2 linked regions of the Homo sapiens genome follow. The protein of the gene in region 2 purifies or fractionates together with the protein of the main gene of each other region. This does not show direct contact. Each region holds a gene or a part of one and is shown on either strand. Other genes may lie near its edges.

Evidence for each region. The genes of interacting proteins can lie anywhere in the genome.
Region 1: the proteins of APOOL (region 2) and MTX2 purify together in Homo sapiens (affinity purification with mass spectrometry; 2 studies listed by BioGRID and IntAct, with this or other methods). This does not show direct contact.

The regions. Positions count from the first base shown.
Region 1 is NC_000002.12:176,334,687-176,340,177, reverse strand, and holds the end of MTX2 (metaxin-2), read right to left. Parts: intron 2,686-5,491; coding exon 2,514-2,685; 3' UTR 2,153-2,513; downstream 1-2,152. UniProt on the Homo sapiens protein: Involved in transport of proteins into the mitochondrion.
Region 2 is NC_000023.11:85,068,683-85,078,089, reverse strand, and holds part of APOOL (MICOS complex subunit MIC27 precursor), read right to left. Parts: intron 4,093-9,407; coding exon 3,979-4,092; intron 3,817-3,978; coding exon 3,699-3,816; coding exon of another isoform or gene 3,690-3,698; intron 1-3,689. UniProt on the Homo sapiens protein: Component of the MICOS complex, a large protein complex of the mitochondrial inner membrane that plays crucial roles in the maintenance of crista junctions, inner membrane architecture, and formation of contact sites to the outer membrane.

The sequences.
Region 1 (5,491 bases), on a different chromosome or scaffold from region 2:
CTCAAAAATAAAATAAAATATCACAACCCATGTTGACATTGCATCTTTATATCTTTATATAGAAAAATCTCAAAGAAAACATCAGAATTTTGTATACTGAGGTACAAATGGTACTTGTACAATTAAATAAATGTGATGGTAGCATTAAAAGAAAAAAATACATCATTATATACCAGTACACAAAAATGTATACAAAACCTGTCATAAAAATTGTACAAAAACACAGATAGCTAGGGATTTTAATAATACACATTACAATATTAGCTCAGGAAACCTACTAAGAGCACTATAGTCCAAAGACAGTACTCAAAGTTTACATGGGATTTACACGAAGGCAAACCTAATGTATCCTTTACATGGTATAAATCTCTATCTTAAAAAAAAAAAAAAAAAAAAAAAGCATGGTGATGAGAAGCCAAACTCGGCCAGGCACCATGGTTCATGCCTGTAATCCCAACACAGGTAGGAGCCTTGGGAGGCCGAGGTGGGTGGAGCACTTGAGCCCAGGAGTTCCACAACAGCCTGGGCAACATGGTGCAATCTCATTTCTACAAAAAAATACAAAAATTAGGCATGGTGGCAGACCTGGACTCCCAGCTACATGGAGGCTGAGGGAGGAGGATCAACTGAGCCCGGAGGAAGGTCAAGGCTGCAATTAGTCATGAGCATGCCACTGCACACCAGCTTGGGTGACAGTGAGACCTTGTCCCCCAGAAAAAAAAAAAAAAAAAAAAAAAAAAACTTTAAAAAAAAAGCCAAACTGATGCCATGACTCATGGGTGTGAATTCCAACTCTACCATTTACCAACTTTATGACCTTGGACAAGGTATTTTTTGTGTCTCCATTTCCTCATCTGTAAACTGGGAATAATAACCTTCATGGTGTTTTGTCTTTGTTGTCAAGTTTTTATTTTATAATCATAAAATTAACCATTCAATCTAGCTAGATGTAGAAGGGAATAAGGAAAATATGGAACCCAAAGTACTACAGTGAGAGCACAAAGATTATGGGATATTGCAAACACGTAGAGTGGAAGGTTGCTCTCCTGAGCTACAGAAGGAATAGTCTGGTAGTTAAGATAACACAAAATTCAAATTTATTAGAGTTGTCCACAGTTGGCAATGGTGATCTTCTTGCTCATCTTGCCATTCTTGGACCCAAAGTATTCCATGGCTTCCATGACACTCATACCCTCTCTCTCACCTTTTCCCAAGACCACATGCCTACTATCTAAGCCTTCAGTCTTGGCACTACAGATAAAAAATTGGAAACCATTTGTGTTGGGTCCAGCATTTGCCATGGGCAAGATGCTAGGACCTGTATGCTTCAGGATGAAGTTCACATCATCGGATTTTTCCCCACAGATGGTCATGCCACCAGTGCCATTATGGCATGAAGTCACCACCCTGGCATATAAACTCTGGAATAATTCTGTGAAAGCAAGAACTCTTAAACCAAACCCTTTCTCTCCAGTGCTCAGGACACAAAAGTTTTCTGCTGTCTTTGGAACTTTGCCTGCAAACAGCCCAAAGGAGATGCGGAACTCCTACTTGGCAGCTATGTGGGAGAACATGGAGCTGATAATGGCTGATGGCAGGCGCCTCCAGATGGTAGCAGTGTCTGCAAAGCCATCCTATTTTTATAAGGATTAAATAAGTTAAAATTCCCTGGTACATAAAAAGAAAATATAAAAGTACTATTATTCTAGACATTTTTAAGAAATCATTTTTTACGTCTGTCTCTTCAGAGCATCCCTGGTTTTATAAGATATAAACTATGAGAAAATTTGGAAAGGACACAACATATAATCCTTAGTGTTTACATAAAAATTCCTGTTAATACTTTTGTGAAAACTATCTTCCCTTCCCCACAAAGGAATAAAAGAGCATTATTAAAATGTTCTTGTCTCAAAAAAAAAGGTTCCTCAAACTTTTCCTTTATCAAATGTAAATCACAGCTGCTCTGATGAAATGTTTTTTAATTAAGTCTCTATATAAAGAATGTTCTTAAATGTCAAATCTGCACCAAAATTTAATTACCTTAAAACCATCCATATTTTCTAAGTGCACACTTGTTAAGAACGTTTATTCCCATTATCTGCTTCACCATGTAACTAGCAAGGGAATCTTGGGAGTATGTAACACAAATTACTTGCCTTAGAAAAGACACTGTTTATTCCACATGTGTAAAATTCAGTGAATGACTTTCAGAAAAATCAAAAGAAAGTAAATGTAACATCCATACAGTTGTTTAAGCTTTATTTTTAAATGCATGCATGTTTCAAGGAAACAAAAATTTCAAGATACAGAATACAACATATCAGATTAAATAATTCAGAATTATTTTAATGTATACACAAATAACAATATAAAGCACATACATAAGATACATTATATAATTTGAGGTTTCAAAAAGCAGTAATTTGGTTTTAAAATTCTGACACCAATATCTAATGTAACATTCAAGTAAAACATATTTCAAAAGTTAAGACTCCTGAGACTAACACATAACTCTATGACAGCCTGCCTTTACCACGATCTTCAAAATAGTGCTGTTCAATTCTCCTACAGAAAGCAAGGAGGTTGCTATAGTTTTTCACCTTCTCAGAAAGTTCATCATTTGTCAATTGTGTGGTAAGAATGGTGTATAGATGGCCAAATACCAGTGCGTCAAGTTCAGTAGGCCTAAAAGTAGAAATGAGAGTAATGTGAGTAAGTAGCATTTAACTTTTACAATAGAAAACACAGTTGGCCCTCTTCACCCACAGGTCCCATACTCGTAGGTTCAACTAACCTCAGATCCAAAATATTTTAAAAGATTAGAAATAACAATATAGGCCAAGCATGGTGGCTCATGCCTGTAATCCCAGCACTTTGGGAGGCTGAGGTGGGCGGACTGTTTGAACTCAGGAATTCACAACCAGCCTGAACAATGTGGCAAAACCTCATCTCTACAAAAAATACAAAAATTAGCCAGGCATGGTGGTGCTTGGCTATAGTCCTAGCTACACGGGAGGCTGAGGTGGTAGAATGGCTTAAGCCCGGGAGGTGGAGGTTGCAGTGAGCTGAGATCACACTACTGCATATCATTTAGATTGTGTGTATTGGGTACTATAAGTAATCCAAAGATGATTTAAAATATACGGATGTACATAGATTACATGCAAACACTGCACCATTTTTTCTTTCTTTCTCAATACATTAAGTTTACGTAAGCAATTATGCCATTTTATATAAGAGACTTGAACTCTGCAGATTTTAGTATCTGTGGGGGTCCCGGAACAAATGTCCTGTGGATACTTGAAAGACCCCCGTGGATATGTTTTTTAAAATCATTTTATTCATCAACTTAAAAGAAAAAAGCCACGTAAGAAACAAATCCTACCACAACTTGATATAACTTTTCTTGGAGTTTCTGCTATATGGAAAAAAAATATGATTTGCTAGTTGTGTGACTTGCTTTCTTTAGTAACAACATTTAGGTGTGTTAAAATAATATAGATGTAATGATCATATTCATTTAATTCATTACTTTTCTCACTAAATATAGCAGATCTCCAATGTGCCAGAAACCATACCAAATGCTAGACATAAAAACAAGAAAAATACTCTAAGACATGTACATGAAACATAAATTATAAAGTTGTTTTAATAAATACAATTTATTAAGTGTTTTAATAGATGCATAAACAAAATGCTGTCAAAGCACAAAGGATTTCGCTGTGGTGATAGGACCAAAAAAATGATACCCAATCACAAATCAACAACAAGACACAACTTTAATTTTACCACATTTAAAGTAACTTAGATTTCTGAAGGAGACAAAATCATAAGGATGGCTTCAACATAAAAATTTCTAGGAATTTTTTTCTCTGTAATTATATATTACTAACAACAAAATGAAATCTACCCCACTACTAATGATCTATAAATGGGGCATCACCAATTTACATTATATTAAAATAATTACTAATGCACTATTACTAAAACAAGAAAATGTCATCATAATTACGAGCTAATTATTACTGTGTCCCACAGTGATAAAGTTTTTGAGAAAATATGTGCTAGCCTACATAAATGTGAAAATATGTTGCAGTAATCTGGTTTGGCAGAATAAATTTGGGGGTTGGTAAAAATCCAAATTTGAACTCCAATACTATCACTTACTAGCTATGTGGCCTTGAACCCTATTGATAAGTAGTCTCCTAGAGATGCATGGCTTTAAATACCATCTTGATGCCACTGACTCCTAAATATTTATCTCTGGTCCTAATGTCTCCCCTGAGCTCTGGATTCATACATTCAAATGCCTACATAACATCTCCACTTCAATGTGGAGTATCTGTGGAGCAGGATGTGGAGCATCTTGACTAAGATGTGTGGGATACTTTATTTTCTCAATAGCAGTAATTTACAGTATCCCAAACCTGCTTGTCCCCCAAACTTCCCAAAATAAAAGGCACCACTATCCAACCAGCTGTTCAGGCCAAAAATTTAGGGGCTACTCTTGAGTTCTTTCTTTCACCCTCCTATATCCATTAGCAAGTCTGGTGAGACACTACCTCCAAAATATGCCCTGAATGCCACCACTTATTCTTCATTATGATTTCACAGTGTAACCTACCATCATCTGTCACCTAGACCACTGAGATAGCCTCCTAAAGTGTCTTACTGCTTCTACTCATTCTCCATACCATGGTCAGAATGACTAATGTCAGCAGATCATACCAACTCCAAGCACAAAATATTCTAATGGATTTCTGTTCTACTTATACTAAAATGCCAAACTCCTTACACTAAGCACACAGAGCCTTGATAATCTGGCCTCTGCCTGCCTCTTTAGCCTCATATCCTACCATTCATAGCATACAACCCAAACTGGCCTTGTTTCTTGCATTTGAACGTAACAAACTCAAGCCAATTAGGGAACCTTGACTATAACTATTCCTGCTGCCTAAAATACTCTTCCTCTGACTTCACACTGGCTCCTTATTTTTTAGAATAAGGTTTAAATGGCACATCTTAAAGTCTCCTCAGACCACTCAAATTAAAGTGGACATGTAGTCACTCCTTATCATGTGGTCCTTTTTTAATTCTACATTTGATAATTAATACCATATAATTTTTTTTTTGCTTATTGTGCATCTCCTCTACCAGAAAGTCCTGTAGAGAAAGGACCTCACCTACTTGGTTCCTGCTGTAACCCCAATACCTAGAACAATTCCTTGCACAAAGCAGGAATTGTGCAATAAATTTGTGTTGAATGAACCAATAAAAAGGTGACACACTTCTCATACCATATTATAACTGTGTTCACTTAACTGTTTCCCTCACTACACTCCAAGCTCTTCAAAGGCAATGCTGTATATATCTTTATATTCCCAGTTCTTAGCACAGTATCTAAGGAACTGAAGTAGCACTTGCCGAATAAATACATGAATTAAAAAAGAAAGCATCCTAAGATGTGTGGAATATTTAATTTTCTCAATAG
Region 2 (9,407 bases):
ACTAAAGAGCTTCTTCACAGCAAAAGAAACTACCATCAGAGTGAACAGGCAACCTACAGAATGGGAGAAAATTTTTGCAATCTACCCATCTGACAAAGGGTTAATATCCAGAATCTACAAAGAACTTAAACAAATTTACAAGAAAAAAACAACCCCATCAAAAAGTGGGTAAAGGATATGAACAGACACTTCTCAAAAGAAGACATTTATGCAGTCAACAGACACATGAAAAAATGCTCATCATCACTGCAAATCAAAACCACAATGAGATACCATCTCACACCAGTTAGAATGGTGATCATTAAAAAGTCAAGAAAAAACAGATGCTGGAGAGGATGTGGAGAAATAGGAATGCTTTTACACTGTTGGTGGGAGTGTAAATTAGTTCAACCATTCTGGAAGAGAGTGTGGCGATTCCTCAAGGATCTAGAGCTAGAAATACCATTTGACCCAGCCATCCCATTACTGGGTATATACCCAAAGGATTATAAATCATGCTACTATAAACACACATGTACACATATGTTTATTGTGGCACTATTCACAATAGCAAAAACATGGAACCAACCCAAATGTCCATCAATGATAGACTGGATTAAGAAAATGTGGCACATATACACCATGGAATACTATGCAGCCATAAAAAAGGATGAGTTCATGTCCTTTGCAGGGACATGGATGAAGCTGGAAACCATCATTCTGAGCAGACTATCAAAAGGACAGAAAACCAAACACCGTATATCCTCACTCATAGGTGGGAATTGAACAATGAGAACACTTGTACACAGGGTGGGGAACATCATACACAGGGGCCTGTTGTGGGGTGGGGGGCAGGAGGAGGGATAGCATTAGGAGAAATACCTCACGTAAATGATGAGTTAATGGGTGCAGCAAACCAACAATGGCACATGTATACCTATGTAACAAACCTGCATGTTGTGCACATGTACCCTAGAACTTAAAGTATAATTAAAAAAATATATATATATGTGTGTGTATATATATATATATATGTATATATATATATACGTGTATATACATATACGTATATATATACATACATATATATACGTATATATATATATATATATATAAGTTTAGCAAATTTATCACCTAAAAAAAAACATAGTCAGAGTTGGCATACAGGCCATAGTTTGTCAACTTCTGCTTTAGAGGGACATTAATCTTGCAAGACTGTGAGAGATTTCATTCTGCTTTCATCAGATTCTTGAAGAGGTCTATGACACCAAATTCTAAATTTGTGATTCCCAAAATAGCAATTTTCTCCATTAATGTACATGAGATGGTAGAGAACAACCAAACTCATATTCAGAGCCACAACATATAGTTGGACAGTACACCCTACCTGTTCTGTATGGTGATAAGTTATAGCCATGGCTAGGCTCACTAGGTAAGTGACTTGCTCTTTAAGTATGCTCAATGAAAATCTGTTTCTCATCAAAATGGCTAACTGCTCTAGGCAAATAATAATAATGATATATTTTAATATCCACTGATACCCCTTAGTATGTCCCTGGCATTACAGTTAGTGCTTTACATGCAATATCTCACTTAATCCTCACAACCATGTGAGAACTATTATTGTCCCCTTTTTGTTGAATGAGGAGACTGAGGCTTGAGGTGTTTGATAACTTGCCCCAGGTAACAGAACTAGTAAATGCTGGATCTGGGATTTCGATTCAAGTCTTATTCTATAACCTGTGCTCACAATCACTACTGTTTCTCATGGCCAAAAAAAAAAAAATGTTTTATTCTACATATGAAACGTGGAAATGGTGAATCCCAAGGTTATACTGTATAATAAACGCCAAATGATATATTGTTATGTACTGCGTGTTGGTGTCCCCCCAAAATTCACATGTTGAGACCCTATCTCCCCCATTGTGATGGTATTAGGAGATGGAGAGCTTTAGGAAGTGGTTAGAATTAGAGGAAGTGATGAGGGTACAGCCTTTGTGAATGGGATCAGTAGTGCCCTTATGAATCTTGAGAGAGCCTGCTTCCCTCTCTTCTCTGCCATGTGAGAATACAATGAGAAGTAGGCTGTCTACAAGCCAGAAGAGGGTCTTCACCAGAACCTGACCATGTTGGCACCCTGATCTCAGAATTTCAGTCTCTAGAACTGTGAGAAATAAATTTCTGTTGTTTATAAGCCACCCAGTCTATGGTATTTTTTACAGCAGCTCAAACTGACCAAGACATCTATGATAAGAATGAGTAAGTAGCACTGGCATCTCTTTCTCCCTCTGCATTGTCTCCATAGAATGCTTTTCATATACCACATCACCCAAGACAGGCAAATAAAGGGTTCCAGAATCTAGATGTGTGAGGAAAAGACATTAGCTTGGAAAGGTTTTGGTCCCACTGTTAAGCTGTAGTATGTTTCATCTTCATAAAGATACTCTGGAATTAAAAGGCATGTGGAAAAATGACCATACATTATATTCTTGTGAGAATATGGTCACTGGTAGATTATTCAGAGTCTAAAAACTGTATAGCTCCTCTTGATTAGAAAAGAGAGAGGACAGAGGAAAATAGTAAAACTCATATCATGTTTGTTATTCAATGACAGTTTTTATGAAGATTAAGTGAGAGGAGGAGGCTGAAATTAGAGACTAACTTCCAGTTTTAAATTAGATAATCTATAGACAATGGAAAGAACTTAGACTTTGATGTCAAGAAGATCTAGGCCATAAACAGAACTCTGCTACTCACAAGCTATATGATTTGGGGCAACTTATTTTAGCTCCCTGAGTCTCAGTCTCTTCATCATAAAATGGGAATAATTACCGATCCAGCAGAGGTTTTTGTTTTGCTTTGTGGGTAAGGGCTGAATAACATAATATACTTCTAGCTCTCTGCATCACAGTATGTGCTCGATAAAGGGTGCATATTATTATTATTCCCCAACCGCTGAATTAGCCACCTTCCTTTGCAATAAGACAACTTAGCGGGTTTTATAATTCACATTGTAATTATATAGATATCTATATAGGTATCTATATAGATAAACCTATGCAAATCAATATGAATACATTGTCAAAATGGTATTAAACACTTTGTCACCTTCTTTTTGATCACAGTAAAATCACAGCAGTATTTGTTTAGAAAGTATAATTGTCACTGCTTGGTCCCACAAAGTGTTTATTGCCAGTATGGAATACTAGCAATGTTATAAGTATTATAATGGATAATATTTCTAATATTTGATGCTGAAAGTTCTTTTGGTGCCTAAACTTAGTAAAACTAAACTTAATAAAAATAAAAGTCTTAAGATTGACAGGGAGACTGATAGGTAAATAGCACAAAAAATGGAAGCTGACATTTCTTTATGTAGGTGTGACTCATCCCTTTAAAATTACAGAATCTAGAAAGGCCCATTTTCCCCCACCTAATAGCTCAAATTTATAAAGTTATATTAAATGCTTCACCTAATCAACCTGTCAGTGTTACTCTATATACTCACATTAAAAGATCTATATTATGAACTATGTGATAATTTAAAGCAATTGCAGATACTTAAGTACCTCATAACCTAAAAAGAAACAGAAACCACAGATATGAGAAAGACAAAATATTTATGGGGAGAACACATCTTAAGTTCAAACCACTAATGATAATGCTATCAAATTATTTAAGAAAAGAATGAAAACAAAATTGACTTATACCCAACAAACCTGAAGTGGATTCTGATTTGGTCTTTGCTTCAGAGCTGAGTTCTGTTGGCAAGGGCACTGAGTGTTTCAAGACGTGAGTTGTTTTTGCAGGTACTTCTATTTCGGAAGAGGATCCTAGCTGTTTACCAAACAGATTTTTCCTTCATAAGTAAATCATTTTACTATTTCCTTCATCTACTTTCTCATTTTATCCTCGACCTCTGTCCAGTACCCTCATTACAAGCCAACACCCACCCAAACAAAACTCAATGTTGACCGTCTTGCTCCATGTAAACTCTACCTTAGTTTTTTCTTTAGGTTTAGGGAGTGACTCTTCTTTGCTGCTTTTTGTCCACAATGATTTAACTGCTCCAAAAATTTGCTGGCTTGTAGCATATACCTTTTTTGCTGTTACCTAATTAAAACAAAAAGTAAGTCAAATAACATATTTTTAAAAGTTAAAATTAAAAATGTATTTTAGATTTGTCAGGTATTTTATATGAACACTCAAGTCAGAATCAATAAAGATATAAATCTCTAAATCATATAACACAAAGCACCATTTCTAAAATCTTATATGAAAAATTTTTTGTGTCATGCAAAGGTTATAAGAAATGTATAATCTGCATTCACATTGTAACATAAATTTAAAACTATGTCTATTTTTTTAATTTTTTTCAGCTTTAGTGAGATTAGATTGACATATATAAAATTGTATCTATTTAAGGTATATAACACGGTGATTTGATATAAGTGAAAACTGTGTCTATTAACAGGAGTTTGGGGAATATAGTTTGAGATAATAAACTGCTGACTGAGAAAATGAGATTTTTAACATGCTACAAAGTTAATGCTTTTGCTTAAAATTTGATGGTGCTTTCTCCATTCATAAAGAAATAAAAGGCATCAACTAATTCCTCCAAAGAATAATATTCTTTTTTGGTAGAAAGGTAAAATAAACAATGACTGATAAATATACTCAAGCAGAGGCCAGGATGCTGGCTGAATTCCTAAAGTTACCGTTATTTTCATTCATCTCTATTTCTCTTTGAAAATCTACTTCTGATTTCTTCTTTTTCCTATTCTTCTCCAATGCTTTTGTTCATTTTAGTTAAAGTAATTTCAACAGCCATTGATTTTTCAAGTTTTGAAGATGTTTTGAGGTATTTTTCAGGATTATAATTTCTACAAACATAAATTTTTTAAAAATTATGTTTCCATCCTCAAATAGAAATATTTTTATTGTTTTTACTAAGTATATACCTACAGTTGAAAAGTTAAGTAATATACTAATATAAAGAAATTCCTCTTCCTCCCCAAATATAACCTTTGTTAACAGTTATACATATATCCTTCCTCAATTTTTACTCATCTATACATTATATATACACAAATTTTAAAACAAATGTAATATTAATATTTACAGATCTTTCAAAAAAGATGAAGTAGATCTATATGTACTGGCATGAATGGAAGTCCATGATGAACCACTAATTTGAAAAAGTTACAGAATAGATTATACAATACAATCTCAATTATGTTTTCAATTAAATTTTAAAATAAATTACATATGTATTTAGTTTGTTTTCCTTTTCAAATACTTGAGATCACAGTACACATATTATTCTGAGATATGATTTTTTTAAAAGCTTGACAGTATTTCAAAGGCACGGTTCTATATTACTTTATATACCGTAGATCTACTTTTTAAATTTGCTGCTTAGTTTAGCATTCTATAATGTATGCACCACAATTTGTTTAACAAATTCCCTATTGAGGCACGATGATTTAACAAATCCCGTTGGTGAGCATATGGGCTGTTTTCCTTTTTGGGGGTAGGGAGATGGCAAGTATAAGCAATGATGAAATTAGCATCCTTATACATACAACTGGGACCATAACCCTTATAGTATTTCCTCAGGATAAATTCCTAGAGCTGAAATTTCTGCACTGAAGCGTATACACATATTAATTTTTGACAGTATTACCATGTTGCTCTCCAGAAAGTCAGCAATATACTGCAGCAATTTACACTACCACCAAGAGTATATGTCTGTTTTCCTACCCTATTTACCAGCAGTGATATTATAAGTCTTTTAAATCTTTGTCAAATTTAAAGGCTAAAAACCAATATCTAAATGATTTTTCAAATTTGCATTTATTTGTTGATGAAATCAAGTATCTTACATATATTAGGCCATTTATGTTTCTTATTTTGTAGACTGCTTTTTTCATTTTCCCAGAGGGCACATTCATCTTTTGCTCATTGATTTATAGGAGTTCTTTTTTTTGTTTGTTTTTTTTGAGACGGAGTCTCTCTCTGTCACCCAGGCTGGAGTACAGTGGCGTGATCTCAGCTCACTGCAAGCTCCGCCTCCCAGATTCATGCCCATTCTCCTGTCTCAGCTTCCCGAGTAGCTGGGACTACAGGCGCACGCCACCATACCCACGCCACCATGCCCGGCTAATTTTTTGTATTTTTAGTAGAGACGGGGTTTCACCGTGTTAGCCAGGATGGTCTCGATCTCCTGACCTCGTGATCCGTCTGCCTCGGCTTCCCAAAGTGCTGGGATTACAGGCATGAGCCACCACGCCTGGCCAGGAGTTCTTAATACATGAAGGATATTAGTACTTTGTCATATATGTTACAAATAGTTTTCCAAGTTTTTCATGTATCCATTAACTTTGTGTATGGTATATTGTAATCTACAGAAATGTATTAATTTTGATGTAGTCAAATATGTCAACTTTTTCTTTAATGGCTTCTAGATTGTATTTTGCTTAAGAAAGCTGTTCCTATCTCAAGATTAAACAGGTATTCCTCTTATTTCTTCTCATACCTTTTATAGTATTCTAGTTTATGATTAGATCTGTATTCCACCTAGAATTAGTTTTCCCATGATAGTTGGTAAAGGTCTGAGTAATTCTACAAACAGCCAATTATCCCAACATATTTCTTGGAAAAAAAAAATCCATCCTTTCCATTACACACTGATCTGAAATGCCACCTGTACCACGTATCAATCCCCTACCCTCATGTGTACAAAAATATACTCAATATAATTGTTTGGATATTCTCTTTTGTCCTCTTGATCTATTTTATTGTGTATACTATAGTAACCAATACACAGTAGACAGACAACAAATACTAGATGAATGAATGTCACACTCCATTCAAATCCAGAGCTTTTGTAAGAACTGAATTAAATTTCTAGACTTTGAAATACTCGCCGTATTTCAACATTTAGTCTTTCATCGAGAAACAGGATATATGCCCAAAGACATTCAAGATTTTTTGTTAAATATCCTTCACATATAAGTGAGATCAAACAGTATTTGTCTTTCTGTGTCTATCTTATTTCACTGAGTATAATGTCCTCTGGGTTATCCATGCCATTGCAAATGGCAGAATTTCCGTTTTTAATGGTTAAATAGCAGTCTGTTGTAGTATATATGTACCAAATTATCTTTATCCCTTTATCTACTGAGAGACACTTAGGTTGTTTCTAATCTTGACTATTGTGAATAATGCTGCAATGAACATGGAGGTGCATATATCTCTTCAAGATACTGATTTCATTTTTTTTTTTTTTGGACATATACGCAGAATAGAAGCAGAGAGTAGAATGGAGGTTGCCAGGGGATAGCAGTGAGGTAAATGAGATGTTGGTCAAAGGGTACAAACTTTCAGTCATAAGATGAACAAGTTCTGGGTATATAATGTGCTGCATGGGTGGTGATGGATATGTTAATTTGATTGTAATAATCATTACACAATGTATATGTATGTCAAATCATCATGTTGTACACCTTGAATATATTCAATCTTTATTCATCAATTAAATATTGTGAAAATTTAAAAATACCCTTCAGTAAAGTTTGATAGTTTATTTTTCTTTTAAACAGGCGTTAAAACATTATTTGGTAAGTCTATTCCTAGATATTTCATAGCTTTCAAAGACAGACTACTTGCTACTCTTTACATAAGTTAATAATAAAAATATTGTGAGGAAAATTATAAAAAGCGAAGAGTAATTCCATCTTGAAGTCTATTTTCAAAATGATGAGTAACTGGAGTGAGTCTTTTGTTTTTCAAAGGACCTTCTAGACTTATCATTTCTTAAACTTTTTAATATCACAGATACCTTGGAGAAGCTCTTAAAAGCTATAGGCCCTTTCCTTCAGAAAAACACAGATACACTAAAAAGCTCTCACCTGACATTCTTTTAGGAGACTTGACTGATTAATAAAATGTTTTTTTAATTTATTATAAATGATGTTTGTAGAATGTTGAATATTCATCCCTATCAGGTGCTCTCCAATATGCTAAGGTACTATCTTTCACAAGTTGATTAGTATGCTTATTAAGTTCCTTTTTTCCCCAAGTTGCTGCATCAGTTTTACTTATAATTAAACAGTCTAAATGTAACTTAATATGATAAAATATGAGTTTAAAAAGAATTATTGTTTCTAGGAAAATTAAGTTAAATGCTTCGTAAAGACTCAAATGTGAATGGCTAAAAAAATAACTGCTATGAAATTAGAGGTGAGCAAGACAATTATAACAGCTGGGAGAAATAAACATCTAAAAGGATTCTGCACTCAATTTTTTTTAATGTTTTTAACTGTTCATTCTATTTTAAAAGAACCTAATCTGGAAATTGTAGAAGACATACTACAGATATGGCTTACTGTTGGAAAGATGTTATAGATCTTTAACCAGGAGACCAATACTCAAAGAAAAGCCCTACTTCAAAATAGAGAAAAAGGAAAGATTTTTTTTTTTTTTTTTTTTTTTTTTTAGAGATGGCGTCTCACTCTGTCACCCAGGCTGGAGTGCAGTGGTGCAATCTCGGCTCACTGCAATCTCCGCCACCTGGGTTCATGTGATTCTCGTGCCTCAGCCTCCTGAGTAGATGGAATTGCAGGCGCCTGCCACCAGGCCTGGCTAATTTTTGTATTTTTACTAGAGACGGGGTTTCAACACATTGGTCATGCCGAAGAAAGACATTTATGTTTTAATTTCAAGTAAAATTGTGGGTATACATTTTTATATATATTTTTACAACTCGCTGCTTTAACATTTTTGATTAATTGTTAACTACTGGTCCTGATTATGTCAAATAAGAAGGTTTTTCTTGTACATACGTGACTTTTCATAAAGTTTTGGATAGGAGGGTGTGCTATAGACTCTCTAAAGTCCATCATGGATCTCAGGTTAAAAAAAAATCATATATTTGAATTTGTAAAATATTACTTGATATTATTATAGTCAAAAGAAAAGCAAGGATTTCAACTCTAAGAATTAAAGTAACAATTATTATTTACCCTAGAAGAACATTTAAAAATTAATCTCTTATATTAGAAAAATTTTTATTTGAAGTTCAGCAATTATTTTGTTTTTCCTTTTGTAAAGTAAAATTCAGTTTAATACTTTATTTTAAAAAATAAAAATAAGACACATACTATGATCTCATTCTTATCTGCCTATTCATAATCAGTTTTTCTATCTCTGTGTATGCATGTGAAGATGTCTAGAAGAACATTCTATCCAAATGTGGACATGGATATTTGTATGGATAGATGCATTTTGGGTTGTTGTTTTTTTCCTAAACTTTTCTGAAATATTTAGATTATCTAAAGATAAGCAGGTATAATTTTTAAAAGCAACCATGATGTCATTACTCTTAGAAAAAAGAAGAATCAGGGCCGGGCACGGTGGCTCACGCC